Homo sapiens: one gene and its partners. The protein of the gene in region 2 purifies or fractionates together with the protein of the main gene of each other region. This does not show direct contact. Each region holds a gene or a part of one and is shown on either strand. Other genes may lie near its edges.

What was found.
Region 1: the proteins of RASSF8 (region 2) and PARD3 purify together in Homo sapiens (affinity purification with mass spectrometry; 6 studies listed by BioGRID and IntAct, with this or other methods). This does not show direct contact.
Region 3: the proteins of RASSF8 (region 2) and PPP1CC purify together in Homo sapiens (affinity purification with mass spectrometry; 5 studies listed by BioGRID and IntAct, with this or other methods). This does not show direct contact.

What each region holds. Positions count from the first base shown.
Region 1 is NC_000010.11:34,357,293-34,364,317, forward strand, and holds part of PARD3 (partitioning defective 3 homolog), read right to left. Parts: intron 2,968-7,025; coding exon 2,779-2,967; intron 2,026-2,778; coding exon 1,855-2,025; intron 1-1,854. UniProt on the Homo sapiens protein: Adapter protein involved in asymmetrical cell division and cell polarization processes. Seems to play a central role in the formation of epithelial tight junctions. Targets the phosphatase PTEN to cell junctions.
Region 2 is NC_000012.12:26,059,679-26,066,703, reverse strand, and holds part of RASSF8 (ras association domain-containing protein 8), read right to left. Parts: intron 2,207-7,025; coding exon 1,317-2,206; intron 1-1,316.
Region 3 is NC_000012.12:110,739,888-110,747,685, forward strand, and holds the start of PPP1CC (serine/threonine-protein phosphatase PP1-gamma catalytic subunit), read right to left. Parts: upstream 3,005-7,798; 5' UTR 2,821-3,004; coding exon 2,766-2,820; intron 1-2,765. UniProt on the Homo sapiens protein: Protein phosphatase that associates with over 200 regulatory proteins to form highly specific holoenzymes which dephosphorylate hundreds of biological targets.

The sequences.
Region 1 (7,025 bases), on a different chromosome or scaffold from region 2:
AATTTTAATTGGTCTCTAAAAGACTAAGGTGATACGTTGTCCAGTAGAATGCATGCCATCTGTCTTATTCACTGCTATGTCCTCAGGATCTAACACATTTTCTGATACACATAAGATGCTCAATAAATATCTGTGGAATGAAAACTGTCCTGTGTAATGGGAAAGTATTCAGGTGGCCAAAATAAAAAGGCCTAAAAGAGAATGATATGTTTTGTAAACTTACAGTTGAGATGTTTTCATATAGTGCTTTGTGGGACTTAAGTTAAAAGATCAGCTAATGATTTTGCAATGAGTAAAAACTACTATTCAATCAGTCCAGGAGGGACGGAAAAGAGAAAAAAATATCAGTCCAGCATCCTACTGTGAGGGATTAGCTTTTATATTTATCTTACATAAATGAATGTTTGTATGTCCCACTCTTCTCCACTCTGAGATTTTTTAGTTAAGGTTATGTTGTTCTCTTGATATCGCAATTAATTTGTTGATTACTGTTAACTCATTCTACATTTGGCAAATAAAAACAACAAAATAATTCAGTGGTCAGTGATCTTTCAGAATACGTCACCTCTATATTGACTACCAACTGAGCTCGAGAGTATATTTTCTCTGTAAAATATGCTTGTATCATAGGTTCAGATGAGTGGTCACTGCAACCTGAAAACGGTGCTTTATGTGTTTATTAAACAGAAGTTTAAAAATTAAGAAAAACTCTTAAACAACTTAGGTATAATTTTCAGTTTGTATTATTTGCTAATCATTTTATCTTAGTTGATTTGATCTTAAAATGTGGGAATCTGAACATTGATTTAAGAAAAACTTCACATTTTCAACAGCTCATTTTGCACATGGGCAAGTCTGACCTATTTTCTACAGTTGGCACATAATTTATAATGGATCCATGAAATTTAGCTTTTTTCAAGCTCCAATATTATCAAGGCAACATATAATTTATTTTTAACTTTCAAATGTCCTATTATACAACAAAGTATGTTTTTCCATATTTGGGAAAATAGATGATCCTACCTTTCAAGAGAGGATGCCCTGTGTCCTCCTCACCCCTAATTCCAAACTGCAACATACATTTAGAACAAGCAGAGTATAATACAATACAGATCACTGAAAAAGGAGGCATTCTAAGAGAACAGACTCAATCCCATAGAGAAAGAGAAAATGGGGACTGAGGAAAGAGAGGGAGGTATATGCTATTGATAATCTCACAAGAGAACACCATCATCTAAGAAAGCCAGACTGTGGGCCAGGTGCTATGGCGCGTGCCTGTAATCCCAGGACTTTGGCAGACTGAGGCAGGAGAATCCCTTGAGCCCAGAAGATGGAGGCTGCAGCGAGCTGTGACCACAACACTGAACTCCAGCATGGTCAACACAGTGAGATCCTGTCTCAAATAAAAAAGAAAGGACAGGGAAGGAAAGACTGTTCCCTACTAGGGGCTTTGTAAGAGGCATCCCATTTTAAATAAATGAATAAGCAACTGTTTCTCTGCATGATTCACCTCCCAGGTATAACTCTGCCAACTAGAAGAGAAACTGTTGGCTCTGAGAAGGAAGATGTGACCCTGATTTCAAGAAAAAATTCAGCTAAAGGGGCTTTTGAGATCCCAGTGTTTCCTGCTGAGTTGGCAATAGGAGTATTAATGTCCACTTAGGAATATGTTGATCACAAGAATTAAGAACACAAACCACAATCCACCTACAAAATAATAAAACTACAATAAGCAAAGATAATTTATGGTCTTTTGATGTAAGGTCCTGGAACCTAATACCCTTTGCCCAAAATTAGGACAGAAATGTAGTTTATTTACAATTTTAGATACTAGCACTTTTTTGCATTTCTTACCTCATTGCACTTGCTTATTCTCCTTGCAACAATAAGCTGGATCATTCCTCGTTTATTGCCTTCAGTAGACATAGACCTTCTTAGGGTTTCCATGGCATCTTGGTTTGTCTTGCCCAACAGGGATTCTCCATTTACTGCTATCAGTTGATCATTCACCCGAAGCCTTCCATCCTGGGAAGAAAACAGGTAAAAATAAGTGCTATTAAACAGACTGCTATAAAAGAAGTAGCTTTTCCTTTAGTTAATAAATAAAATAAAAACAAAGCAAAAAAAAAAAAAGTGGGGAGCTTTAATCCTAATGGATTATGCCCAATTGAACGCTGGCATAATAACGTCTAAGCAGCTATTGTAGCCTGTGTCTATTTCAATCATTTATACATTTGTAAATCAAGTCATTATCATAATCTGTTTACCAAAATAGCATACTAATTCAAAGGACACAAAGTGATTACTTTCTTGCTTCCAGAAACACCCATAGAGGTTATTTAGAAACCAAGACATGTAAAAGCTCAAGGCTATTAGACAGTTGCAGAGAACTGTCCCCTTAACAAATGGCCAGGAAATTTTCTCTAGGCTGAGAAATAGAGTAAGTGACCCACAAACAGGGGAGGGGAGGGGAAAGATTAACGTCTACTATACGCCCATTCTGTGACAGGACCTATGCCAAGTCTTTGCATTGATTAACTTCATTTAACTAGCATGTCAATGGGTTGTATGTTCTGTGAGAGAAAAAATGAAAGGTTGAAGTTATGGACTCCATCCCCACGTGACACATCACTGATACACCTAGTTGTTTAAATGTGAATGTGGGTACCATAAAGAAATGAGAAAACTTCTGTTAACTGTATATGTTTCCAAAATAGGAACAGGGTTGAAATTAAAATTTTTGTTAATAGGCATACGCATGATAAAGTTGACACTCACTTTAGATGCTGCTCCTCCATTAATAATGGACTTGACAAAGATTCCCAAATCTGCGTGGTTCTCTTTTGACCGGTTACCTTTGACACTGACACCAAGGCCTGCAGATCCTGAATCATTAAGTGGGACTTCAAATGTCAGAAATTCCCTGGTGCCATCAGGTGTAAGAACAATATCCTCATCTTCTGCTTTCTAATAGGGAACAAAATTGCACAGCACATTATAGTCCAATGTTTCTTTCTCAAAGTTATTTTTAAAGACTGCTAATGAGCAGTTCCTTAATCATAAGAGGCAAAATATTTCCATGAAGGTTCCACAGCAAGATCCATGAAAACACTACATCTGCACCCACTCCAGAAGATTCTTGGAACCAGCTGTTAATATTTTTATGTAGCAATTATTCAATATTGAACCAAACTTAAATCAGATTTGAGAAAGATAGAGGGAAAATGTAGTGGAAGGACTAAAGACTAGTAGATTTCTAGAGTTCGGGATTTTTTTGGTGTAATCATATATTCTAAACGACAAGAAAAACAGTAACAATGGGAGTAAAAATAAATAAATATAATTCATTTATCTCCCTTTTTATGAGGAAATTCTGAAGTTATCAATATATTTAATGTTCACTAATGGTGTTTATTCACAAAAAATAACAAATCCTGATCATACAAAATCAGCAGAAAAAGGTATATGGGTTCAGAGAGCCTCTAAAGAATTCTAACATCAACATCTGTGAGACAAAGTAGAGATATACAACATCACAGAAAACTTTTCCACAATATTGTAGCATACATAATATAGCTGGTAAATATTATTCAGGTAATCTTGTTTAATTAGTTAAGATTTAACTTCATAGTCACCAAGCATAGAAGGAAGACTTTTTAAAATAAAAAACATTTAGGATATACAAATTATTGTTCACCTCCCTTAAAACAGAGGAAGAAATGAAAGCTTAATGTAGAACTGAATAAAATGCATTAAGATGACAGCCTATCATTAAGAAAGCCTACACTCCAGAAGAGGAAGCACTCAGCCTTCTGAGCTCCTCCTCCTCAGCAATCCCGCCCATGACCAAGATTTCCACCATCTCTATACTGGTCATGTCCAAATCAGTAAGGCTAGGATGCTTGTTCAAGCACAAACTCTTGCTCCAACCACATAACAGACACGTGGCACAGGCTCTTCAAGTAAAAACTGAATGGCACATCTAGTCCTACAACCTATTTCTCCTCCTCTTTTCCCACGTTTGAAATATTTCTCCAGCATCTGTTTAGTCATTCAAGCTTGACTTATCAAATTATAATTGAAGAATAAGAAATACAGTGGTACACAGATATGTAGGAATATATACTTTAAACAGATTGTGCTTTTACAGAATGTTCAATAACACAAAAAAAGTAGGTGACTGCATCCTACCAAATTTTTAAAATGTCCTAATAAGAATAAAAATCAACCCAAGGAATTTGGAATTCAAGGAAATTTGGAATGCAAGGAATTTGGGGCATAAACATGCAATCTCAGATGTCTCAATTAGATAAAATACATTTTGAGAGTACACTATCTGTAAGTGAATTTTTTAGATCATCATAAAATAAGCAATATGCTATTTATAAATCTTTAGACCCATAGTAATGTGATGTTTCTAATTTACAAATATGTAAAGTTAACATTTTATGGTAGGACATCTTTGTGCTATCTCAAAGGATGGCCTGATAGTTTTTAAAGACAAGTAACACTTCAATTACAATAAACTTGCTAATGGGTTAAAAAAAAAATTAAAACTTATATAATGAAGAACTCAAAATAAGAATCTGAAAAAATACAGAGTAATAGTCATGTTAACTATGCAAAGTAAATACATTTATGATCAAAGTCCAAATAAAGCCTTAAGCCTGCTCATCATAAAAACTAGATTTAAAATATTCCCAGGCTGGGCGTGGTGGCTCACGCCCATAATCCCAGCACTTTGGGAGGCCGACGCAGGTGGATCACGAGGTCGAAGCAGGTGGATCACGAGGTCAGGAGATCGAGACCATCCTAGCTAACATGGTGAAACCCCATCTCTACTAAAAATACAAAAAATTAGCCAGGCGTGGTGGCGGGCACCTGTAGTCCCAGCTACTTGGGAGGCTGAGGCAGGAGAATGGCGTGAACCTAGGAGGTGGACCTTGCAGTGAGTGGAGACCATGCCACTGCACTCCAGCCTGGGCGACAGAGCAAGACTCTGTCCCATAACAAAAAATAAAATAAAATAAAATATTCCCAGAGAACAATTTTAGCTCAAATAAAACCAATGTATTGTGGGCAAAAAAAGATCAAATATATCAAATACTTTGATACAAAAGTATCTTTATATACATGCTTTGCTCTATAAACATGAATATTCAATATACTTTTTATTTTGGTCCATGTAGCTCAAAACAAGTGTTTTTGTTGTTTGTTTTTTTGAGACAGTCTCACTCTGTCACCCAAGGTGGAATGCGGTGGTACAATCACTACTCACTACACCTTTGACCTCCCCAGGCTCAGGTGATCCTCCCACTGCAGCCTCCAGAGTAGCTGGGACTACAGGAACATGTCAACAAACCGGGCAAATTTTTGTATTTCTTTAGAGATGGGGTTTCACCATGTTGGCCAGGCTGGTTTCAGACTCCTGGGCTCAAGCAATCCACGCACTTTGGCTTCCCAAAGTATTGGGCTTACGTGCCCAGCCCCTTGAAACATTTACAGAGTACGAAATAATGACTATGTGTGAATGAACTGCACTACCTCAATATAAAATCTGTTACAAGAATATAAAGTACGGTAAATTTTGATGTTTAAAATACAAAACAACATCAATACACATCATAGTTCCCCTTGACTTTAAATTTGGAGGTTGCTGAAATAAAAAATTATTCTGTCAATCAGTACTTATAAGCATGGAAAAGCTACATTTGAAAAAATGGAAAACAAGAATATTCTTTCTATGGACACACCTAAGTCTCATCACTCACTATGCTTACTTGCTTCAACTCTGGAAGGTTCTTAATTGTTACTTTCTGATTTGAATCTTCAGTTGCCTTTTCAGTGTTTACTGAGTTTTACATTTCCATAACATTTTACCAAGGCTTACAATTCTCATATTTTTCCTACTTGAAAGATCAGGATAAGGAGCTGGCTGCATATATGAAGAAAAATTTTAATCAAGTTGCAATATTTTCTGATTGCTGAACTCTGAACCTGTTTTAAAGAAGAGCATATTCTCCAGGGGATAGTTTATTTATTATAACAACTGCAGAATGGGAATAATCTTTTTCAGCTTTCTTACCAAGTCTTAAGTCATTATTATCATTAAGAACACTGATGTGAAACATTGTATGTTTCATGTGATATTCCACTATTAATCCATTTGGCTTTTGACATAGACAGAAATTAATGCCAGCTTTTAGAACTTAGTTCTCTGGCAGAAAAATGTTTTTTAAAAATTGTGCTCTTCAAAAATCATTTGAAATGCTATATTACTGAGAATGTTCATAAAGTCAGATAGTATAGGAATCTCCATATTCTGATGTAAAATAGAAACTAACTTTCTATCACCTTGCTATTCCATCCAAATTCTGCACCTTATCAACTGTTTCTCGAATTAAGATCTTTCTACAGAAACGCAAAAAATGTCTTTTCTTTAACTCACTCCTCATGTCATCTGGGCACAGTCATGTCACTCAAGCACACCTGCCTCACGCACATACATGTGTGTATACCTCAAGTGATTGTTTTCAGCAACAAAGCCTGTCAGTTCTTCCTTTGCCCATTTCTCCATTACCATTTGTTGTCTTTAAATGCCCAGAATAAAAGGGCACCTTTGCTAAGGAACCTGCTGAATGGGTATTGTGAAAGCTACTTACTATCCCACCCTCCAGAGAACAGCAGAAAAGATGTACATTTCTATCTGCAGTGAGACAAAGAGTCACAAGTGGGCACCATCATGGCCCCCTTTTCCTTCTTCCCGAAATCACAGTCCAAAAAACTGAGAATAGAGCTGGCCTATAGGCCCAAATCCACAGTTAATCTGCAGCAAAGGTGTTATCTATAAAAAAGGAAATAAGAGTTGATTGTGTCAAGCAGCAGAAAAACAATCATGGGAAGGGTAATCTCTGAGCCGCAACAAACGAAAATTTGGATGAGAATGTACAAAATATTGTGAAGAGAGGCAAAAGAAACATGGAATGTGCACAAATGATAGAAGACCATAAAATTATAGGAGTGAG
Region 2 (7,025 bases):
GGGATATATCAATATTTGATTATCAGACACTTTTCAGTGGGTAGAGGGATTTGCTAGTAATGACTGTGATAAGTTAGTGTTTTCTGTGATATCAAAAGCAACACAACTTCCACTTGTACCTTTTTTTAAATGTCAAAATGAATCCCAATAGTAAAATACTGACAAATTAGAGGCTGACAAGCTTCTACTGCATGAGAAATTCTTGATTTTCAAAATTTGGGTGGTAGTTTTATCTCTTACTACAGATAATGACGGAGAAAGGAGATCACATCAGTTCTTCCTAAAACCTCAGCTTTCTCTGATTGTGGAACTAACTGTTGATGTTCTAAAGCAGCTCTTCTCAAACCTCACTGTACACAGGTATTACTTGGGCATCCTGTTTCAATGTAGATTCTGAATTTCTTACAAGTAGTACCCTGGAGCTGCCTGGCATGGACTACACTTTGAATCGTAAGCTCTAAACCAGCACAGTCCAACAGAACCTCCTTCAATGGTGGAAATGTTCTGTGTCTGCACGGCCCGTACAGCAGCTACTGGGCACTTGAAATGTGACCATGTGTGACTAAAAACAGAATTTTAAATTATTTAATAATTTAACTGCCTTATTATTTAATCTTAATTTAAATTTAAGTAGCCATATTGTAATCAATTGTGTCTCTTTCTCGTCCCATCTGATACAGACTGTTTGATACATCTTTGCAACTTCCGCAACATAATCACAGGGTCTTTTCAAGAATGGGTATCCAAGAAATGTAAGTTGAGTGATTAGGGTTTAAGTGGCAAAATAGAACTTCTCGTATGTGAACTAGAAAGGGGGAAAATCAGACAGAAATCTTTGTGCCTCTCTCAGGAAAGCAAAGGAGGGTACTGTGGAGAGGGGAGAAGGGACGGGGGCTGTTTATGTGTCAGGAAAGAAGCTGGGATTGGCTGGCAACAATGGAGAAGTGACAGATAAGCAGTCAGCTAGCCACAACAATCCCTGGCCAACCAATCCATGGACAGCTCTTTCAGCTCTAGTTTCCCTATCTCTGAAAGGAGAAGGTGAGATTCACTATCTCATCATTAGTGTCCATTCCATCCCATTATCTAACGCTACAACTGTCACAGTAAGACAAGGCTCTTCCATGGAGAAGGATCCGCAAGGCTACTGCTCCCATCTAAGCTGTCGTAAGTCACAAGAGTTCGACAAAAGTTTTAAACAAGGCTGGGTTTCTAATTCTTTGAATATAAGGAAAAATTGACAATGATGAAAAGGAGATTCCAAGAAGATACTATTTTACATGGGCCAAACATTCTATTTATCAAAGTGTCCCTACCTGTAAGCGTTTGGTGGCTTGTCCAAGAGATCTTTCCACAGCTTTGATGCCATTTTCCAACCTCAGACTCTGCTGGCCTTGAATGTCAATCTCCCCTTTGACCTTACCGATCTTTCCTTTAACCTCTTCCTCATTGACCTGTGCCTCTTGAACTTCCCGTTGCAATTTTTCTGCTTCAAGACCACTTTCCATAGTCCGGATCTGTGCCAAATAGTCCTTTAATTTGTTTTCACATTCTGTTATTTTCTGTCTTATTTCTTGAAGTTGATCCTTCAGCTGTTTTTCATTTTCCTGTTCAATCTGTAATTCATTTTCCCAGAATTCTTCCTCCTCAATTTCTACATCGTTTCTTTTGATCTTTTGCTCTAGACGGACAATTTCCTCTTCAAGGTTGGAATTATACTTTTGCTCCCAAAATCTTATTTCTATTTCATTAGATTCCAGCTGTTTCTCAATGGATTGAAGCTTCTCTGTCTGCAGACGGATTAGCTTCTTCAACTCATCTGCTGTTGTTTTGCAGTTATTCAGCACCTTTTGCTTAAACTCAGTTTCTTTACCTTTTCCAAAAATGTCCATTAATCCTTTGGCACCTCCTGTAAATGTCAGTGATTTCCTTTTCGGTTCCCTCCTTTTGATTGATTTGTCAATCTGAGGCCTCAGTTTAGCTAAGGGGGGCAGACTCTGCCTGTATAAAGTTCTTTCAGGAATTCGAGCCACACTGTCTGAAGTGGGTCGCTCACTGAGAGACGGCCCAGTTCGTCGTAGAATGAGCTGCACATCACTAGCATACTGCCCCCATTTGTTTAAGGATATGATAGGATTTTCATGAGGTGCTAAGTGTCTTTCAGTATCTCTCCATTTCTCTATAAGGGTGTACCTTCCAGTTCGACCTATGTAAAAAAGGTAAGAATAACTTGTCAAAATGGGATATGTAATAGTTAAAAAATGGAGTAAGAATGCCATTTGATGATTGTGTATTTTCGATTAGCATCAGAGGGTCAAGTTTGAGTCTAGTTCAGGTTCCTTTAAAACCTTTACTTGAAGATACCAAACCCCTCACGACATGTAACAACATAAAATCAGAAGATGTGTATTGCACATACTCTTTAGGCTTGCTTAGAAATTCAACTTTATACTTTAAACCTTGGTGGGACTCTTATACTCTTGCCAAATACCTGGCTGCCTAGAACTTCTCATTTGGGGCAAGACTGAACAAAGTTTATTTTCTAGCTGAAACAAAGGACAACAGAATCGCCATGTGAAACATGAGGGGCTGGTCCAGGAACTAGGTGGAACTTCAAAACTCAAATACATTTCCACTGTGGAAATCCCTCGGCTTTTTTCCACATCAGAACTTGGGAGGGCTGGAGGCCCCACTTCTCCTCCTGAAAGGAGACATGGGGACCAGTGGAGAACTGTGACTCAGCCACAGGAGGTGCCCAGGTCTCCTCTCCATCTCCACCTGAGTGCTCCACCAACCCATCGCTCACACAGCTGACATCTTCCTGGACACCCATGACAAACAAAAAACCAGCTCAATGAAAAAAACTCTTCAAAACAAATTCATATAAAAAGAGGGGCCTGAAGAGAAGACTTGTTCAGTTTTGGTAATATGATAGTATCAGAGATTCTTCTTCTAAAAAAAAAAAAAAAACTCAAAGCAAAATATTGTTAAAAACAAACCAGCAGGCTGGGTGCAGTGGCTCACACCTGTAATCCCAGTATTTTGGGAGGCAAAGGTGGGCAGACTTCTTGAGCCCAGGAGTTTGAGACCAGCCTGGGCAACATGGCAGAACCCTGTCTCTACAAATAAAATATGAAAAAGTTAGCCGGGAATGGTGCTGTGCACCGTAGTCCTAGCTACTTGAGAGGCTGAAATAGGAGAATCGCCTGATCCTGGGAGATCAAGGCTGCAGTGAGCTGTATTGTGTCACTGCACTCCAGCCTGGGTGACAGAGTAAGACTCTGTCTCAAAAAAAAAACAAAACAAACAAACACCAGAATACAATCACATATACATTGAAAAATATACTGAATCTAATCATTATGAAAGTAAGATAAAGTTTCAGAAGAATATGATTGTAATGCCATAAGCTTGAACATGCTTTTTAAATATTTTCATTTGAGTGGGTCAGATAGATTATTTAAATTTTGTGAAAAGTGTACATAAATAATTACAAAGAAAAAAAACCAACGCTGCCATCCAGCAATTATACTTGTATAAACAGCTATTGATTGATTTACCTTCCTGGCTTTCTTTTTTAAATTTCATGAGCTTCTGAGCCAATAGTAGTATTTTTGCAATTACTGCATCAATAAATGGAAATCTAGATGTGTAAATATCAACACCCATGTATGTAATTCATGAGGAGCACATTAAAAAATGATTTTGCTATAAGCATATGAGTGTGTTCTCCTTTAGGGAAACCTGAATTTGGGGTATAGCTGGAAGTTGGGGTTTTGGAGGCAAACAATCCTACGTGAGTTACTTACTAGATAAGCAGCACAACTTCCCTTCTAAAACGCTTCGCAGATTCTGAGGGTTAGCACCTACCACACTGCCTGGCCCACAGCAGGCATTCAACACGTGGTAGCTAGTAAGACATTTTTCCTATAACAAAAGGGCTGACCACAGAATTCCTTTAAATAGTGATGTGTCATCACAATGATCTTTTATTTATTTATTTATTTTTTCCCCTCCCTTGCCCAACAATCTGACTTTTAAAAAGCAACTTCCAACTATGTAAACTAGACAGAGATGGGACAAAGGTTCTGGAGTAGAAAGGTCTGGGTTCAAATGTGGCTCTGCCTCCTACTGTGCTTACCTACATGATCTGAACAATTAAATTTCCTTTAGCCTCAGTCTCCTCATCTGTGGGATAAGAGTAGTATTGCCTTATCTGACAAGGTGGTTCTGAGACTCAAGTGAGAATGTAAAATATAAATATGTTTGTGAAATTGAAAAGTGCTAGATAATATTAGTTACATTTATCAAAATGCCCAGGCTAATAAGGGGGATGAAAAAGAAAACCTTAGCACAATAGATTAGCTTCTTGAAATAAAAAATGTTTCCAATGATTTTCAGGTTAAAAATTACTCTAATTGCTCCCAAAGAAAAACCACATGACACATCTGCAATGTTAAAACTGTCCCATGTGTACAAACTGCTTCAAAGGTCATAGCACTATGCCTATCAACTGCTTTTAGGAATCTTACTCTTCTCTGAACCTCTGTGTCCTCCTTCGGTAACAGGAGGGGTTAGATAAACCGGTAGAGTTCTTTCCAATTCTATCAGCCCAATGAAGTATCTTTAGAAGGAAAACCGAATCATCACATTATATGAACTAAACAAAATATTTTAAAGACCCTAATTTATTCATAATTAAAAATAAAACTAATTTTCCAGTGCTTACTGGTACTGCTACCCTCTGAGAATGTCTTGGAAGGTTATTTAGAATTGCTTTTACTGCCAGTATTGGCTTTTGTTAAATAATGCACATTTAGTACCACTGGGTCAAAAAATTCCATCCAGCAATATAAAAAAGCTTTTTTTAAAAAAGGCAAATGAATTAATAGATTTGATTTTATTATATAAATTGGGTTTTAAATATTTTATATAGGAATTAAATTCCACAATCGCTGTTTTTAATATCCATAACTTGGCAGCACTCTACAGATTCTATTTCCTTCATTTACACAGATTCTGATTCCTCCTGCAAAACTCCTTTTAGCGTATTTGACCACATGGATACATTCAGTTAAACCTTCTGTACTATTTTGATGTAATCTTAAAATGAATAAAAAGGAATATCTATCTGTCTGTCTGTCTATCTATGGCATTTGTAGTTTAAGCTGTTTTTGCATTGTAGGACTGTGTGACACTATCAAATAATTTCGATCCAATTTAGTGGGGTAAAAAATATTAATTATACTTTTAAATATTGAAGCAACTGAGACTAATCCCAAGAATCATTAAATTTATATACTGAAGAAACTTACATACAGATTTTAATGCATTAATGAGATCTTATTGAATGACTGATTGACATAAATTAAAAGAAAACAGGATAACAGCTTACTTTCACTTAAGAAAGCAGAATACACAACTATAAAGTAACATAACATTTTGAAAATACACACCAAAACTCAAACAAGGGTCACTCAGAAATTTATGCCCTGAATTCAACCATTTTTTAATACTCCAACAATTTTTATAATTTTAGGAAATTTCTCCTTACAGTCATAAATCAAAATCATGATTTAAAAGTTACATCTTGCTATTTAGTTAACAAATGTATATTGAACACCACATATGTGTCAGAAACAGTGCCAGGCTCTAGAGAAATAGATTCTACTAAACATCTTCATCACCAACCCTCTGGAGTCTTCATTTTAACTGACATTTGATATTTTCTTCAGTACCAAATCCTCCACACCCCAAAGATGAATATTGGACATTATTCAAAAGAACATGACAAAGAAATGGCACTAATCTCTTATGAATTTAATGCTAACATATCTTCAGGTTTCTGGACATATGAGAAATAATGTCAGTAACACCTGACTTATTCTTTATCTATGGAGGATAAGCTATCCAACAGCACTGAATTTTTCTGATAGTAGATATTTTGCTTCTTGAGCTATAAATATTTTAATGAAAATTTTGTAAAATACATTACACAGTCCAGGACTCTTATGCAAACTCTAGTGAACACAACTAGCTTTTTCCGTAATGACTTAGAATTCTTACAGTAAGCGTTGATCTCTGTAACAGAACTTACACTTTATTATCTTATAGCCTGTAAAATGCTTTTGATGCTTTTATATATATCATCTTAGTTAGTTCTGTGAGTTAAGCAGTATAGATATTACGATCCTCATCTTATCAGTGAAGAAATAAAAGCTTAAAGAATTTTAAGTAATTTTCTGATGACATTTAGTTATTTTTTTACTATACTATTTAAGTTCTGAGTGAAACTACTAAAATAACTCTTACCCCACAGTATATCTTAGAATAACAGTGATACAATAAAAAATTATCTCTGAATATACCTGTCAGCCAGTTGTGCATTCAAACCATAGTTACATCATCCACAGTGTATCTTCCCAGTGTATATCATGTAATCACAGAATTACTGTCTACTTAGAATTATATGATAAGCTCACTACTACTAAACATAATAAAAATAGTGGTCAGGCACGGTGGCTCACATCTGTAATCCCAGCACTTTGGGAGGCCGAGGCGGGCAGATCACGAGGTCAGGAGATCGAGACCATCCTGGCTAACACGGTGAAACCCCGTCTCTACTAAAAATAGCAAAAATTAGCTGGGCGTGGTGGTGGGTGCCTGTAGTCCCAGCTACTCGGGAGGCTGAGGCAGGAGAATGGTGTGAACCTGGGAGGCGGAGCTTGCAGTGAGCGGAGATCACACCACTGCACTACAGCCTGGGTGACAGAGTGAGACTCCGTCTCAAAAAAACAGTTACAGAGTACCTGTGATTTACTGGGCATTGTGCTGGTTACGTTAAAAAAATATAAACCAAAATAAGTAGAAAACACTACAAACCAGAAGATTTTGGGAGCTGTTCGTTAACACAGCATAATCTAACCCATCTTGACTGATGCATGCTATGAATTAACATGTATTAACATTCATTAAAATAATATTCTACAGATGTGGAAAATACAGAAGCTAATTAAAATAAAAAA
Region 3 (7,798 bases), about 85 Mb from region 2:
CTGTGTAGTTATTTAAATAACTAACATCAGTTATACTAAGGAGTTAACAACCTTAAGTTTTATCATCAGCAAGGCAGAGCTTGGATAAAAGCATCCATGGTGGGTTGCAGAGGTGATGCCTCGCTTACAGAAATACTCAGAGTTCAGAGAAGAAAAGAACTGCAAAGGTTAGTGACTAAGATCTAAACCAACATGCTGTTTTTCTTAAGACTTCACTTTTCAGTTAGCTTTTTAGTACTATTACTCAGCTACTTCTCAACTAGGTTATACTGCTCGCAAGCTTAAAAGATCAATTCTAAACACGTAAAAAAATCTGGCCAAAGTCACAAGTCATATTCCCTCTACTTTCAGATATACTTACATCTTATTTAGGGAAAAAAAAGGTTTTGGGGGCATTATGAAAAGAATAAAATTTAGGCCGGGCACGGTGGCTCATGACTATAACCCCAGCACCTGGGGAGGACGAGGTGCGAGGACTGCTTGAAACCAGGAGTTTGAGAACAGCCTGGGCAACACAGTGAGACTCTCATTTCTATTTTAAATTATTAAATTTAATTTTTTTAAATAAAAAATTGTAAAACAGAATTTATTACCAACATCATTTAACTTAGATATCTACATATCCTCAATGGATCATCTTCAACTGTTTCTCTGCCAATTTAACACCCACGAGAAAAAAAGAAATTTAAGTATACTTTGCAGTTAGCCTATTCCCAAGGCATTAAAATGCACTGCTTTATTAATTTCAGCAAAAAATGAAATATAAGAAAACCTGGTTTTCAAGTGCCACATAACAAGAGGAACTATTAAGAAACAATGATCTCATTTTAGATGTATCATTACTTACCAGGCAAAGTACTTATTACAATTTTAAAGATCAAAATTAACAAAAGCTGTTTATGAATAGAGGCAGTTATGGGCAAACCAGAACTTAAATTAGCAAGCCTTAGATGATCTTAAAATTCTAATGTTTCTAATCCATGCAAATTCCAACTTTTCCTGTTTCCTCAGAGAAATAAAGCCACACATATCCCTGCAGAGATAAGCAGAATTTTAAAATTTAGAAAGAAAATATTTAACAAAAAGTTCCTTTCTTACAGCAAACTATTTTAATCAGTTTCTGACCAACTGCTGCCTCGAATAAATTAAAGAACTATATTAACTAGTATGAAAAAGTATGGTTCTTATATAAATACCTGGCATTAAAAGAATGACAAGGTTTTCACCTACAATACAAGGTTTTCACCTGCAATAACATTTCAAGAGCATTTCAGGGGTCCTTAATGACATTTAGTGTTTTTTTTGTTGTTTTTTTTTTAAAGACAGCATAAAAGGAAAGAATGCACAGATTAAGAAAAGGACGAGATATTTTCAGGAGCTTCATTTTAATAACTTACTTTAAAAGATCTGTAAATTCTAACACCAGAGCTGTCCAACTGTTCATGCCCTCGACTCCACCACTCACAGCATTTATAGTCCAACAATATTTTAGGACTGTATAAAGGCAAAAAGCAGTTGAAACTGCCAAGTTCCCATTATGAAGTGTCCAAGTTAGGGGATATGACTGAATTCTTACAAAGTCTTGGATAAGATGTTAGCATCCGTTGACATGCCCTTGAATCTGAAAGCAGCTCATTTCAGCTTCCGTCTTTAAAAGCTGAACCTCGCCCCTCTCCCACATCAACATGAATCAATTGCCAGGCACCTCACAAGTCTTAGATGAGCCGAAATTTAAAGCTTTCTATTAACCTTTACTTAACCACTGGCCACCTTCCTTCCTACATAAGGTGACAGTGTTGTCTGTAGAGGGTTCTAGCTCCCGGCTATGTGGATTTGAAATCCAACTGTCACTAACTGTGTGACCTTGGTTAAGTGACTTCATCTCAGTTTCTTCTGTAAAATAACAAAAACAAAAAAAATTGCAAATATCTTGCAATGGGTGGGAGAATTAAATGAAATCTGTCTTAAGTGCTCAAAGAATGCCTGACACACAGTAAGCGCTTTAGAAGCGTCAGTTATGATTACAGTAATAATTCATGGACGCAAAGTGCTTAAGACAGAGCCTGGCACATTGGAAAGATAATGATAGCGTCAGCCTCGTTGGCTTCCTCTTCAGATGCACGCTCAGGAAAAGAGCGCGGAGACCTCTCCAAGATTAGAACAACTTAAAAGGATTTGGAGGGCAGGCGAAGACAGGTTCTCACACCTCTTGAGACATGAACGCTTGTTACCAAGTAACAAGAAATGGGCCCCCCAAGACCCCAGAACCACGAAAAATAAAAATAAAAGCAAGCAGGAAAAGAGCCCCCAAACCCGGCGGAACTCATGCCCTCATCAAACTGCCTTCCGAGAGGACGAGCACCGAAAAGTCCATCTCGCACAGCACGGCACACGTCGTCCAGGAGGCTGGACTGGGATCCCCAACCATCGCTCCAAAGACCCGTCCAGTGCGCGGGGGCAAACGGGTAGGGGCGGGAAACGTGGGGGTGGGGAGCGGAGTTTTCAAATTCCACGGCCGGGAGGAAGCCTGCATCCTCGTGCAATGAATGAGCGGAGCCTGGAGGGTCCGCAGCTGGCGACAAGTTGGGAATCCCGGGCTGGCCTCCCTCCGGCTGCAGTCCCCGGCCCGTGGGCCAACTCGAGGAGCTCACTCCCCACGGTGCTGCAAGCCCAACCGGCCTCCCAACTCCCCTCCCTCGAGCCCCCGGGGCCGCCTGCCGCCCTCAGGCCCGCCTCCCCCTTCAGCCGCCCGCCGCCCCCCTTACCTTCCAGCAGCCGTTGGATAATGCTGTCGATGTTGAGTTTATCTAAATCCGCCATCGCCTTCCCACCGCCGACCCTCCCGCAGCGGCGCCGCCGCCGGCTCGCGCCCGGGACTCACACCTCCTTTCCCACGCCACGAGCAGAGGCGGTGGTGGCGGCGGTGGCAGCAGCCGCGGCGGGTCCCCCCCCTGCCACCCCGCTCCCTACTTCCTCCTTCTCTCCCCACTGGAACCACGAGAAGAACAAAATGGCCGCCGACTCCTTAGACAGCCTCGGGCGGCGCACGGATGCGCGCGGGGAGTGCAGCGGCCCGGCCGGGACTTCTTTATGGGCCATAGGGGGCGCGGGAGGGGGCGGGGCCCGGGCGCTGGAGGGGGCGGGGCCCGGGCGCTGGGCGGGGCGCAGATGGCTGAGCGCAACCGCGTCCCCGCATGGGATCCTTCCGCCAAACGGGCCGAGTAAATAGGCCCGCCCCCAATGCCGGGCCCGAGCGAGAGTTGCAAAGTTGCACGCGGGAGTTGGGGCTGGGGGAGGAAATGCAGCTGTGCACACCGCCGGTTGCGGCCATCGCCGGATCTTGTGCATTGAGTCTAGATGTTTGCAGACCTGGACAGGTGGGAGCTCACCGAGGGATTTCGGGGGTCCTGGAACTTACCCTTTAAGATAAATCTGGGGTGAGGATGGAAAAGAATAATAAAGAAAAGAAGGTTGACTTATTTTGGATTCAGATATACTGGAACTTGGGACAAGAGAAAGGTTTATTTGGTAACTAAAAAGAAAAAACCCTCTTTCAGATAAGTCAAAATGTAACAGTTAACTCATTGTGAGTGGTGGGTATATGGGTATTTGTATATATATTTTTTGTGCACTTCTGTAACTTTAGGGGTAAAAAATCCATACTCAAAGAAAATTTTATCATTTCTGTCCCTTGGATTTATCTTCCCTGAACTCGGAAAGTTATGTAATCATCGGGACGGTTATCCCGATTCTAGCCAGGGCAAAGTTGAACGAGCGCGTGCAGCAGTTAAAAGGGGAATTTGCAGATTTCACGCGTGCAGGCCGGGGGCGGGAAGAGAAGATGCAAGCTGCGCGGGCGGTCCTGGGTTCTGCAGACACCCGAAGAAACTTTGGCCCATTCCTCTCTGGCTTCCCAGCCTCCCCGAGGGCACTCCTATCCAAGGGGCCCCCAAACTGTGCCACCTCCAGGGGCTGCGCGTCGACTTTGGCTGGGTTTGGAAGTACAGCCCACACTCAGCAAACAGATCGGCTCTCTTTCCTGACCTTTCCATGTACGTTGCTTCCTGCAGCGCTTTACATTTTGCAAAGCCCCCTCTCTCCGAGAAATTCATTTTGTTTCCCAAGGCGTGCAGGATGCACGAATCCCCATCTCAGTATGCCACGAGGTAATTGCACCACCCAGGCATCCTCTTCCAAAGCAATGTCCTCAGGGTGCGGGCTCCATGTCCCCTTACTTGGGCCCCCTCGCTACTGGTGCAGGGCCCTTGAGTTTCAGAACTCAGCCTATCGATCCACTTTCCTCAGGCACTAACTCACTTTCCCCTGCTACAGCTCTGTCCACCAGAAGTCACATAAGTGCCATTTGTCAGGCCAAGGCAATGAGCCCAGTTGGTGACATTCGGAGTTGGTGCCCAGCGCTGCTGTGAACATCTGGCTATGGAGGTCAGGGGGGGCTCTTGCTGGAGTCCACAGGACTTTGGGCTACTCCAGGGCAGGGTGCATCATCGGAATGGCATTTAGGGTAGAAATATGAAAGACAGCAATTCATTCAGCAGACAAATATTTATGGAGTACCCACTCTGTGCCAGGCATTGTTCTAGACAGGGAAGCAGGGGTGATCAAGACAGACAAGGCTTTTTTCTATGGAGAGTCATTTAGTCAGTCAGATGGTAAGCAAAGATGCAAATAAAAATATCAGCTTCTGATAAGTGCAGTGGAGAAAAATAAACAAGAAAAAAAATGCTACTGTGTTCATTTCTTAGTATGTGCCAAAAAATGATCTCATTGAATCCCCAAGATAATCCTAGGAATTATGTCCTATTCCTATCATCCCCATTTACAGATGAAGAAAGTGAGGCACAGAGAGGCTAGGGTGGTTGCTGAAGGTCACACAGCCAGGAAGTTACAGAGTCAGGGCTGGAACTCAGGACAGCCTGAAACCACAGCCCTCGTTCATATTCAGTAAAACCCGGCAGTGAACCCCCAGCAGTGTTCACATCCCTGGCACATACTGGGCACATATCAATTTGGAACCCAGTGGAATGACTGAATTGTGTCTCTGCCCACAATACGAGTGCCATAATTTTCCTCATGCAAAATGGCAGGTGTGTTAACCTCTTGCAACATCATCAGGGCTGGAGGAGGACTTCAGACTGAGCTGGGACATGGGGAGAGCCTCTGTCCCCAGGTTGTTTTCTGCTGGGCAACTCCCCTCCAGAGTTCAGTTCTGCTGGCACATGCCTAAGTGATTAGCTGGCTCTGAGCCTGAGCATGGCATAGCTCACCAGGGTGGGCCCTCACAGCTCCCAGGAACCAGCAAATAGCCGGTGGAGGAAAGCACTGATTCCCTATTCGCCTTTTTCTGCCATTATCAGCACCAGTGGCTTTCCAAAGATGAGTTGATATAAGCATCCTGTCAGAAAGGATACAGCCTAATAAATGGAATGTCCCTTCCCCTCTCTAGGCCTCAGTTTGCCTATCTGTCAAATGAGGAGAGTGGATTAAAGTGCACTTTTCAAACTGTCTTTCCTGGCTCTACAGAGCTTTCTTAGGGGCTGCTGAAGATGATGGGGAGCTGATGATTAGAAGAGAGTGGCTGTGGCCAAATATTGGAAACTCAATAGTGTCTCTGAGGATACTTAGGCTTTGAGGGGGGATCCCAGTGCCTAAAGGGACCTGGCTGATAATACGAAAGAATTCAGCCTCTGGGTAGGGACTGGAGCAAACTGAGCCCACGTTTCATCCAAGGGGGCGGCCACTTCTCAGCTCCAGTCCCCTGGGGCCACTTGTGGCCAGATCCTCTGAGTTTTTGGTAAAACTTGAACATATGGATTTTTATGTTAAATGTTCCAATTTTAAAAAGTCGGTCATGAACTCAAAATCTTCTAAAACAGTGTGAGGCAGACAAAGCATATCTGTGGGTTACATTTGGCCCTAGGCCAGCAATTTGGAACTCTGTTCTAGAAGGCTGGGGATGAACTTTATTCTCTCCGTCCTTCCAATTTAATGAGCATTAGGATTGTGGTGAGATGATTGGAAGAAGTGTTGGTGGCTGGGCGCAGTGGCTCACGCACTTTCGGAGGCCGAGGTGGGTGGATCATTTGAGGCCAGGAGTTCGAGACCAGCCTGGACAATATAGTGAAACACCATCTGTACTAAAAATACAAAAAGTAGCTGGGCGTGCTGGTGGGTGCCTGTAATCCCAGCTACTCCAGAAGCTGAGGCATGAGAATCGCTTAAGCCCAGGAGGCGGAGGTTGCAGTGAGCTGAGACCGTGCCACTGCACTCCAGCCTGGGCGACAGAATGAGACTCCGTCTCAAAAAAAAAAAAAAAAGAAAAGAAAGAAGTGTTGAGTGTTGGTGATGAAGTTTGCCTGCAAATCTAGACCTCCCTGGATATTCCAGGGGTTTTATACAAAGGAGGGAACCATGGGGAAAAAATACGGGTGAATGCTCTTTGACAACGTCCACAGTTCTATCTCTGCATCCTGTAGTGTTACCGGCAGACACTTGTATTCTTTTGGGCAACGTTTGTCGAGGCCGTACTGGGTGTCAGGCACTGTGTGAGAAGCTGGGGACATAGCAGTGAATAAGCCAGACTTAGTCCCTGTCCTCATGGAGCTCCCAGTCTAGAGAAAGACACAGAGGGGAACAGATAAACCATTTGAGGAGGATAATTTCAGAGAGTGGCGATTTCGTGAGAAAATTAGAAAGGGTCATGTGACCACATAGGAGGACTCTGAGGATTTGACATTTGAGTCAAGATGTGAAGGATGAAAAAGAGAAAGTCATGGGAAGGATTGGCATAGGGGAAGAATATTCCCAACAGAAGGACCACCAAGTGCAAAGGCCCTGAGGCAGGAACAATCTTCCAGTGTTGGAGGAATGGGAAAAAGGCCAGAGTGGCTAGAGCACAGTGTGAAAGGTAGGAGAAGAGTGTCAGAAGTGGGGGTTGGAAGGCTGGGCGCGGTGGCTCACGCCTGTAATCCTAGCACTTTGGAAGGCCGAGGCAGGCAGATCACTTGAGGTCAGGAGTTTGAGACCAGCCTGGCCAACATGGTCAAACACCGTCTCTGTTAAAAATATGAAATTTAGCCGGGAGTAGTGTCGGGTGACTGTAATCCTAAGCTACTTGGGAGGCTGAGGCAGGAGAATCGTTTGAACCCGGGAGGTGGAGACTACAGTGAGCCGAGATCGCGCCATTGCATTCCAGCCTGGGTGACAGAGAGACTCTATCTCAAAAAAAAAAAAAAAAAAGAAGAAGAAGGTGGGGATTGGAGAAGTGGCCAGAGGCCAGATCACTCAGGGTTTTTGTTTTTTTTTCTCTCTTGTTGCCCAGGCTGGAGTGCAATGGCACGACCTTGGCTCATGTAACCTCTACCTCCCGGGTTCAAGCGGTTCTCCTGCCTCAGCCTCCCAAGTAGCTGGGATTACAGGTGCCTGCCACCATGCCCCGGCTAATTTTTGTATTTTTAGTAGAGACAGGGTTTCACCATGTTGGCCAGGCTAATCTCAAACTCCTGACCTCAGGTGATCTGCCCGCCTCGGCCCACTCAGGGTCTTTTAAACCACAAGAAGACGTTCGGATTTTATTCTAAGCTTAATGGGAAGTCACTGCAGGGTTTTAGGTAGAGGAGTAACATGATCTTATTTCACTTTTTTTTTTAGAGACAGGGTCTTGCCCTGTTGCTCAGGCTAAACTACAGTGGTGATATCATGGCTCACTGCAGCCTTGACCTCCTAGGCCCAAGTGATTCTCTCGCCTCAGCCTTCCAGGTAACTGGGACTACAGGTGCAC